2 separate regions of the Homo sapiens genome follow, and region 1 is linked to region 2. Evidence: fine-mapped expression QTL. Tissue or cell type: whole blood. Region 2 holds a variant in brackets; the other region holds the start of a gene. All regions are shown on one strand. Distances are from middle to middle.

Region 1 (5,148 bases), 280 kb after region 2:
GGCTCTTAAGTAGCTATTATAAGATTTGTATCATCATAGCTGAAAATTACCCCGGAATTTTAAAATATTTTTCAAATCACTCCATGAAGTGCTTAGAAAGCACGACCCTTCCCTGAAAGATGCATAATCAGCTTTCCTCTTTACCTACCCGGGCATTCTCTACTTGCAAGCCACAAGAAAAAAAAAAAATTAACTTTCAAAAATTATCTCCCATTCAGCTATTACCTAGACTACCCTGTTTCAGGCTAGTTCCCAAAGCCAACATGAATTGAAATCTTGAGTTCAACTAAAAGTGATCATTTTATGTTGCCTAAGAATATAATCAATTTCACATAACATCATGTTTTGCGTGTGTGTGGGTTCTTAAAATCTCAGTTCTTTAGTTCTCTCAGTTCTTCTAGGCAACAAATTAATTTGTCTTTGCCCTCATGATGCCCCTCTTTCCCACAATAAGGAAACAATATAGATATTTTTGTTAAATTCTGCAAGTATGTTTAAACAAGCTATCATTAAATACCACATGAACTTCTCCATAAATAGAGATACACTGGAACATTAGATACTTAGTATATATTAAACACTTCAAGAGCATACTTTTCAGCACAAACCCAGGACAAGAGTAGTCTATCCACAACCCTGAACACAGCCCAAATATCCCTATTATTTCTAGGACCATAGCCATCTGCAAAAGCCAAAATGGAAAGGACTAAATCCACATTCTTCTAACTAAATCCACAGTTATCTAAATATGATGGAAACTAACGCTAGAGTGTTTTAAATCGTCCTTTTTAAGGAACCCGCCAGAACATTTAACAGGTAATGAATGCAGTAGCACTCCAAAATTGAACTTAAATGTAATGAGCCAGTGACAACATTTAACTTAGTATTTGGCACTATGACAAAACAAATCTCAATCAAAACTTGGACCTATTAATACTTCCAAGTTAACTTTTGATTAAACATAAATTATACGGTGGCAGGTTGGTAATGTCAAAACAGGAAGGTTAAGAGATAACACATCAAACCACTTATCCAATTGAACACAAATGCATACAGAGATGTTACTGCTGCTAGGTATTTATTGGCTCCCACTAGTCCCTTCTAAAGAGAGAAATCAATGGCAGCCTCCAAATGTGAATGGTTACTGAGGAAGTTCATCCACAGATTAAGAACAAATATTATGTGTAGTCATACAAACAAGAAAAAAATGTTGGGAGGGTGGGACATTTAACGTCTCTATTAAGTATATCAAACTATGATAACCCCTGAGACCTAAAATATTCTCTCATTCCAAATTCCAAAAATTCTGCAAATGTGCATAATGGTTTAGTAATCAAATCTTGTCCTTCTCTTTATTCTAAAGGATGGGCAAGTAAACACTGTCATCACTACTTTAACGTGGAAACACTCGAGCACTTGATGAAACTGACTACCAACAGCAAGAAAAGTACAAGAAAGCAGTTTGAAATCGAATCATCCAAATAAATATCATATTATCTCAATTCAAGGTTAATGAGACCGGGGGAGGGGGTATGGGAGGAGTAAAAAGGGAGCTGCTTCATCCTTGACTGAAGATAGGTTTTGCCCTTTTCCATTGCCTGTTTATCAGGAGGTCTAATAATTTCAGATCCTGGTATTTCGAGGTTTCTTATTTTAAGGGCGAGGTGGAAAAGGGGTGTAAAATAAAACCAATACTCACTGCTAACTTTCATGCTGCCAAAAGCTGAAGGCTGCTGCACCGGCTTGCAGCTCTCCGCAAAGGAGGTGGTTCTGGGCCGCCCTGACATGATCACTCTCTTCGCGAATCACCTTTTCCTTCCTTCCTCCTTTTCTTCCTTTTGTCTTTATGTTGGGGTGTTAGGTTAACGATAAATGCAGCATTAAGTTCTCCCACAGAAGAAAAAGAAAAAGACTTCGTCCTCTTGGCTTTTCACTCCTTTTGTATACTATAAAAAACAAAACAAGCGATATATTTCTCCTTCAAGACAGATCGGCACGGATATTTAACATATAGATGATTTAGGACTTGGGAAAAAATACAATTCTTTCCCCTCCCTTTCCTGGGAGGAGAGAAAAGAGAGGGCAAATCCTAAAAAAATATGTATCACGTGAAACGGGGGCAAATACTTGATTGAAAATGAGTACTTCGAATATTATATTTTCCTCGGGGATTTTTTTTCCGAGTCAATGAAGAAGGGAAGCGGCGGAAGGATCACGAGTCTCACGCTTGAAGAGAAAGGGGGATGGGTAGGAGGGAGGGAGAGGGAGGGAGGGGGTGGCTCGGAGATGCGACGGGAAACGCTGCAGCTCCGGCAAGCCGCGGGATCCGGCGGGCTGACGGCAGGGGCCCGGCGAACTAGAGGGCGGCGGAGTCGCGAGTCAGTCAGAGGCGGGCGGTGGCGGTGGCGGCGGCTCCTCTCCTCATTGCGCCAGGAGCAGCTGCAGGCGGCGGCTGGATCCAGCGGCCATGGCGGTGGCGGAGGCAGCTCCCTTCAGACCCCAGGCAGCGGCTCCTCGACTGTTCCCCATTCGCCGGGGACATGGGAACCCGGCAACCGCTTCCGTCCCTCGGGGCCCCCTCCCCCGTCCGCGGCAACAGCTCGGCCGCCCTCCCGCCCCTCGGCTCTGCTCGGTGCCCGCTCAGGAAGTGTCCGCGCTTTGCCCCAGCCCAGAGCCCTGTCAGCGGCTGCGGGGCCGGCTCCTCCTCGCTTCCTTCCTTCCTTTGTCACTTGGCCCGGGCGGCGGCGGCGGCGGCGGCGGCACAAGCCCGCATTCGCCCGGGTCAGGAGCTGCTCTGTGTGAGGAGCGCTGTCTGCGCAGCCGCCTTGCACTTCCCCACTCCTCCTCCCCCCTCCTACTCGTCCTCCACCTCCTTCCTCCCCCACCCAGCCTTACACCGCCCAGCGCCCCGCCGCCCGCGTAACAGGCGTCTGGGAATCGCCGGCCGAGCCCCACGCTCGCCCGCTTCGGCTGGGAGCCGAAGCCCGAACGGAGCCAATCACGGACGTCGTTTGTTTGCGGCTCCTCCCGGAAAAAGCCGATCAGCCTGAGAAACCAATTAGAAAGTGACGCTGGGAAGCCACGCCCAAAGAGCGGAAAATGCCGAAGGTAGCCGAACGGAAAGGGTGAATTCGCCTTGTTCGGTGGCTGGCTGGAGGAGACATTCGACAATGGCAACAGTGGCCAATCAGAGTCGCCGGCCCTTACGAAGAGGCTTGAAGAGTTGAGGACGGTGAAACCCAGAGACGCTGGTGAAACTGCACGGCTGGGCGCCGCCGCCGCTTTGTGATTGGCTGGAAAACTCCGCTGGGAGCGTACCTCCTTCGGTGATTGGTGAAGAGAAGGGGGCTTCCGAGGACAGTCTGGCCAGTCAGGACTTCCCCTCCCTCTCCAAGGTGGGGAGAAGAAAGCGAAGGGAGGGCGTCTATAAAGCGCTGTCTCATTGGCCTGAAGCTTAGGCGCTGGAGTTGGGGCAAAAGGGAGAGGGAGGGAGCCCGAAACTCGCGGCGGCGGCCAATCGGCTCTCACTGCCGTCCAATCGCAAGACCTAGCTGCAGTGTGATTGGCCTTCGGCCCCGGTCCCAGGAGCGGGGAGATGCCTGACTCGGGTCGTGGCTGACGACCCGACGGTTCGCCTGCGGCCGCCTCCAACAACGGTGGAAACCGCACACAGGGACCGCGGGCCCTCGGTGCAGCAAATCGGAAAGTGCTGCGGTCGGCGGCCCTGGGCTCTGAGCGCTCAAGCGAGCAGAGGGGTGGAGGGGCTCTCCCCACCCACAGGAGGCTCTCGGCGGGGCGCAGCCAATTCTGCGCGCCCAAGGCTCCCCTCTGCCGTGGATCGCGTGTGCCGAGTGTTGGCCTCTTCCCCGAAAGGGCCAGACGGACCAAGGGGGCCTTCCCAGCCGGCTGCAAGCTCTCAGACGCTAAAATGGGAACAAAGCTTCCAGAAAGGCAGCGCCTTTGGGCGGCCGCGCCCCGCCCAGCCGCGGGGGCCATTGATACAGAGGCTTGCTGCGCTTGGTGTGCGCGGCCCGGCCGGGCCTCTGGAAACGCCCATGAGAAATGAGCTCATGCTGGATGCGCGCGCTCCTTGGGCGCAACTGCCCAGCGCAAAACGGGCCCCGAAAGCAGGTGAGGGGAAATGCCGTCAGGCCGGATATCCTGAAGCCTCCGAGGAAATGGGGGGGTCAGAGGAGCCCGTGGTAGCTTTGGATCTTTTGGAACTAGGGTGATCTATAAAAGTGCAGCTTGAGAAGATTTCATACATAAGACCAGCGTCCATTGTTCTACCATAGAACCAGTTCCTTTGGTCTGCTTTAGAACAGTGAGGTATGGCTACGTCAAGATAACAGAGAAAGTAGAACAGACAGTTGCCATCCTGATTGTAATCCAGTGGTGCCTGTAATTTCTACCTGCAGAGTCATCTCTTTCTGTTAAGATGCTGTCTCCAGAAAGCACATGTTAAAGGACCTATATTTGATCAGATTACCTGGCTCTTGCTTTGAAACACTGATGAAGGACTTGGGACAGAACAAAGTAAGCTTTGATGGAAGACAGGAAAGGTCTAGATAGTGTTTGCAGATTCAAATGGCTACAGAGGCCAGACAAGTAAAGCAAATGAGTGAGACTGGCCTTGTGTAAGACAATGGGGAATGATAGGGAAAATGGCAAATTGGAATATCCATGCCATAACTAAAAGGAACAGCTGCTCAACTCTAGCAGATTGTTGCCCTCAGGAATGTGGGTCCAGTGTTCTCAGATGTTCAATTTTTTTCCTCCCAAAAGAAACCCCAAAATTGGATTTTTGTGTGAAATCTCTGCATTTTTAAATGTTGGTAACCAAATTTTCAAACCCTGCAGGCCAACCTAAAAACATCCCTTGGCCAATGAGGCATTGGAAAAAGTGTTAATAATTGTTAGGGGCCCGATAGCAGTAGGAGGGTGAAAACAAAATGGTTTGGGACCTTAAATAATTGAAATGTATCTTTATTTATTTATTTATTTTTGAGACGGAGTTTCACTCTTGTTGCCCAGGCTGGAGTGCAGTGGCGCGATCTCGGCTCACCGCAACCTCCGCCTCCCCGATTCAAGTGATTCTCCTGCCTCAGCCTCCCAAGTAGTTGGGATCACAGGCATGTGCCACCATGC
Region 2 (5,148 bases):
ATAGGAGCTGAAGGAGATGGGGCCAGCCTGTAAGGGACCTGGATGCCAAGCTCAGTGGGTGGAGTTCCCGGAGGTTGGAGGGGAGGAGAGGATGCTGCGGGGCAGAGCTGTCTGCTGGGTTGTGAGGGGAGAGATGAGAGGCAGCCAGACAGCAGCCACAGTCATCCTCAGGGAAAGGAGCCATCCTCCCTCTTCCTCTCGCCCCCAACTTCTGGATTATGGGATGGCTGCTGGTGCCGGTCTGTGGGCTGCCTCCCAGGGAGCTGTCCTCCCCTCCCCATCCTTGCTGCCAGGGACTTGCCCATCGAGGACCAGATCTCCCTGCTGAAGGGGGCCGCTTTCGAGCTGTGTCAACTGAGATTCAACACAGTGTTCAACGCGGAGACTGGAACCTGGGAGTGTGGCCGGCTGTCCTACTGCTTGGAAGACACTGCAGGTGCCCGAGAGAGCCTGCCTGCCCTGGCAGAGGGAGGGAAACACTGCAGTTATGGGAGGAAGGGAGCTACGCCAGGATATGCAGGTTCTGGGATGGCAGGGCAGGAAGATGGAATGGTGGAAAACAAGATATTGGTGAGGGATGATTAGATCTTGGTCAGCTTGCTGAGAAGCTGCCCCTCCATCCTGTTACCATCCACAGGTGGCTTCCAGCAACTTCTACTGGAGCCCATGCTGAAATTCCACTACATGCTGAAGAAGCTGCAGCTGCATGAGGAGGAGTATGTGCTGATGCAGGCCATCTCCCTCTTCTCCCCAGGTGAGGATCTCCCCTAGGCTGCCTGACATCCCCCCCAGCCTTATCTGCCCTCCCCAGGGAAGGTCCCAGTCTATGGCCTTGCTCCTCATTCACTGCGCAGCCAGGATGGGGGCTCTCGCTGGTTTCTCCTGGGGTCAGTGGGTGATGCCCAGCCCTGGTCTTCCTTCACTTCCCTGCCTGGGTGACTCCAGCTCTGGAGGGTGGTTGGCGAGCAATGCCCTGACTCTGGGCTGGACTGAGCTTGTCTTTGCCCCATGATCTTGCACCACACCTCCCTCCCCTCCAGACCGCCCAGGTGTGCTGCAGCACCGCGTGGTGGACCAGCTGCAGGAGCAATTCGCCATTACTCTGAAGTCCTACATTGAATGCAATCGGCCCCAGCCTGCTCATAGGTGAGCACAGCAGGGGGTGAGGACCCGTGAGGGTGATGTGAGGGAGCCGAGGTTCAGGGAAATTGCCCAAGACTTCATGGCCAGAGGGTGGCATCTGGAGGTAGCCCCAGCCAGACCAGGTCCAAAGCTCACACTTTTGAGCACTACCTAACCACTTCCCAGGAAAAACACAAGCAAACAGGGGGACGTGGCCCAGAAAGGGGCTTCTATACCTTCACTGGTCCTCAGTAGCTCCTGTGACCTACTGCCCAGACTGATGCCCACAGACCCAGAGACAAACTTGGATTTTACGGAGCCCAAGGCCATGAAGGGTTAAGGCCAACACTGAGTATTATAGTGTGAACCTATAAACTGAAATCCTTATTTGGCCTGCACAGCTTTCTTTTTGGCTTGGTGTCCTGGGATGCTGGGAGTGGCCATGTCTTTATTTGCTCAACCCTTCCTTGTATGGAGGCAGGAGGCTGGAAGTGCCAACTTTCTTTTCCATCATGGGGATACTGAGGCATATGGTACATCTCAGACACTAGATCCAAAGCTAGTTCCAGGAAGGGATTCCAGCCTGCAGCCCCTAACCTCCACAACGACTCTGCTCAGTCCTGGCCCCTGGACATTAACGAAGGCAGTGACAGCCCCACACCCCCAAACTGGTAGCTGCAATATCTACATTTTCCCACGGAAGTCTCTGTGTACAAAGATGCAACTCCCGCAGCTGGGTGTCGTGGCTCACACCTATAATCCCAGCACTTTGAGAGGTCAAGACAGGAGGATCCCTTGGGGCCAGGAGTTCAAAACCAGCCTAGGCAACATAGCCAGACCCCAACTCTAGAAAAATTTTAAAAAATTAGCCAGGTATGGTGGCATGTGCTCTAGTCCTAGCTACCCAGGAGGCTGAGGCTGGAGGTCTCTTGAGTCCAGGAGTTTGACACTGCAGTGAGTCCATGATCGTGCCATCATGCTCTAGCCTGGGTGACAGAACGAGATCCTGTCCCTTTAAAGAAAAAAAAAAAAAAAAGACACAGCTCCCATGAATGGGATGGGAGTGGGGAGAGTATTGGGCAGGCTGTTCTGCCTTTCTCATCTACAGGGTAAAAGAGAAGCTTACGGAATTCAGCCAAGCCTTGTCTCTTGGCTGACCTGAAATGTCCAGAGATTATGCTTGTGCAGCCTCAGAGCAGCCCTGAGGCTTGTGGGTCAGGGCGGGCTGCACCCACAATCTTTTCTCTGGCTGGCATGCAGGTTCTTGTTCCTGAAGATCATGGCTATGCTCACCGAGCTCCGCAGCATCAATGCTCAGCACACCCAGCGGCTGCTGCGCATCCAGGACATACACCCCTTTGCTACGCCCCTCATGCAGGAGTTGTTCGGCATCACAGGTAGCTGAGCGGCTGCCCTTGGGTGACACCTCCGAGAGGCAGCCAGACCCAGAGCCCTCTGAGCCGCCACTCCCGGGCCAAGACAGATGGACACTGCCAAGAGCCGACAATGCCCTGCTGGCCTGTCTCCCTAGGGAATTCCTGCTATGACAGCTGGCTAGCATTCCTCAGGAAGGACATGGGTGCCCCCCACCCCCAGTTCAGTCTGTAGGGAGTGAAGCCACAGACTCTTACGTGGAGAGTGCACTGACCTGTAGGTCAGGACCATCAGAGAGGCAAGGTTGCCCTTTCCTTTTAAAAGGCCCTGTGGTCTGGGGAGAAATCCCTCAGATCCCACTAAAGTGTCAAGGTGTGGAAGGGACCAAGCGACCAAGGAT[G/A]GGCCATCTGGGGTCTATGCCCACATACCCACGTTTGTTCGCTTCCTGAGTCTTTTCATTGCTACCTCTAATAGTCCTGTCTCCCACTTCCCACTCGTTCCCCTCCTCTTCCGAGCTGCTTTGTGGGCTCCAGGCCTGTACTCATCGGCAGGCGCATGAGTATCTGTGGGAGTCCTCTAGAGAGATGAGAAGCCAGGAGGCCTGCACCAAATGTCAGAAGCTTGGCATGACCTCATTCCGGCCACATCATTCTGTGTCTCTGCATCCATTTGAACACATTATTAAGCACCGATAATAGGTAGCCTGCTGTGGGGTATACAGCATTGACTCAGATATAGATCCTGAGCTCACAGAGTTTATAGTTAAAAAAACAAACAGAAACACAAACGATTTGGATCAAAAGGAGAAATGATAAGTGACAAAAGCAGCACAAGGAATTTCCCTGTGTGGATGCTGAGCTGTGATGGCGGGCACTGGGTACCCAAGTGAAGGTTCCCAAGGACATGAGTCTGTAGGAGCAAGGGCACAAACTGCAGCTGTGAGTGCGTGTGTGTGATTTGGTGTAGGTAGGTCTGTTTGCCACTTGATGGGGCCTGGGTTTGTTCCTGGGGCTGGAATGCTGGGTATGCTCTGTGACAAGGCTACGCTGACAATCAGTTAAACACACCGGAGAAGAACCATTTACATGCACCTTATATTTCTGTGTACACATCTATTCTCAAAGCTAAAGGGTATGAAAGTGCCTGCCTTGTTTATAGCCACTTGTGAGTAAAAATTTTTTTGCATTTTCACAAATTATACTTTATATAAGGCATTCCACACCTAAGAACTAGTTTTGGGAAATGTAGCCCTGGGTTTAATGTCAAATCAAGGCAAAAGGAATTAAATAATGTACTTTTGGCTAGAGGGGTAAACTTTTTTGGCTTTTTTCTGGGGAAAATAATGTGGGGGTGTGGAAATAGAAACATACGCAAGCATACATATTTTTACTACTTATTTTATTATTATCCTGTATAAATCTGAAGACTCCGGCGTAAGAACATAAAAATGAATTATTTAACTTGGCTTACTTATAAAATGATTGTTCTGTATAAAAGTTTAACATATGTGCATACCATAATTAAAATGTAGTCCGGGCGAGGTGGCTCAGGCCTGTAATCCCAGCACTTTGGGAGGCCAAGGCTGGCGGATCACAAGGTCAGAAGATCGAGACCATCCTGGCTAACACAGTGAAACCCCGTCTCTACTAAAAATACAAAAAATTAGCCAGGTGTGGTGCTGGGCACGTGTAGTCTCAGCTACTTGGGAGGCCGTGGCGGGAGAATCACTTGAACCAGGCAGGCGGAGGTTGCAGTGAGCTGAGATCGTGCCACTGCACTCCAGCCTGGGGGAAAGAGCGAGACTCTGTCTCAAAAAAAAAAAAAAGTAGGAATTAATTTTAAATGTCTAATATTTCATTCAAATGAAACTTCACAGTAACTGAATTTTAAAGAACAGATAATTACTTAGCTTTTGACATTTTACAAGAAGCAGGCCAAACTTTGAGAACATGGTAAATCATCAGTAATATAAATCAAAGCAAGTAAACATATTCTGTCATCCCTCTGACTTTACCAGATTTTTCTGCATTAAGGAGATATAGGGAGCACTTATTTTTAGAAAAGATACTGAGGGAAAAAAAGAGCTTCTCTTTCCAAACTCAATGAATGCAGCTTTTGCTCCCAGGAATTTTAATTATGAATCCATTTATAATTAGAAATACAAATTTCTAATTTGGAAAGATAGATTTCACTCCAGTGTATTCATAAATCATATGCATCTCCCTTTCCTTACTGAAATGATTCGAGTGCTATTTGTTCAAGAGCCTGAAACTGTTGTAAGCTGTAGGACAGGGTAAGGTGAGGTTAAGATGGAATGGAGGGCAAATTTCCATCTCCCAGTCTTGATTTAAAAACTCCAGGGTAGTTCTCCAAACATTGAATTGATATGTACATATAATTTATATAGATTATAAAAACTAAATGTATTTCAAGAGTGAAGAAAGATTCAATGTTAGATGCCCTGAAGAGTTCACATAGGGTACTTCCTTTCAGTAGGTCTGTGGATCACAAGTTTATGGGACTAGAAGCCAGATTTTAACCTTCCTACTCCAACATTTGAGTTTCTTCTTTACTCCCTTCCCTGAACTTTTGAGTAAACAGAACTAAGCATCAGTTTTTAGGCATCCTTGTGACCACTTTTTTTTTTTTTTT

The links. PIP is the estimated chance that this variant, and not a neighbour inherited with it, causes the effect.
Region 1: it holds the start of GSK3B, and the variant in region 2 is fine-mapped to the expression of GSK3B in whole blood (TOPMed, PIP 0.93).

Annotation. Positions count from the first base shown.
Region 1 is chr3:120,091,648-120,096,795 of GRCh38, forward strand. GSK3B (glycogen synthase kinase 3 beta) reads right to left here and starts at 2,800. Exons shown (of 11, transcript NM_001146156.2): 1 at 1,700-2,800. The coding sequence starts at 1,787. It overlaps GSK3B-DT (GSK3B divergent transcript), which reads left to right and starts at 3,457. Exons shown (of 3, transcript NR_186629.1): 1 at 3,457-4,131. RefSeq lists enhancers at 2,979-3,388, 3,015-3,309, 3,589-3,908.
Region 2 is chr3:119,814,686-119,819,833 of GRCh38, forward strand. It overlaps NR1I2 (nuclear receptor subfamily 1 group I member 2), which reads left to right. Exons shown (of 9, transcript NM_003889.4): 6 at 294-436; 7 at 638-754; 8 at 1,041-1,146; 9 at 2,383-3,802. The coding sequence ends at 2,527. Among named protein-coding and RNA genes, the nearest start is that of NR1I2, 35 kb to the left of the region's middle. RefSeq lists an enhancer at 979-1,479. The variant G/A (reference allele first, on the strand shown) is at 2,897.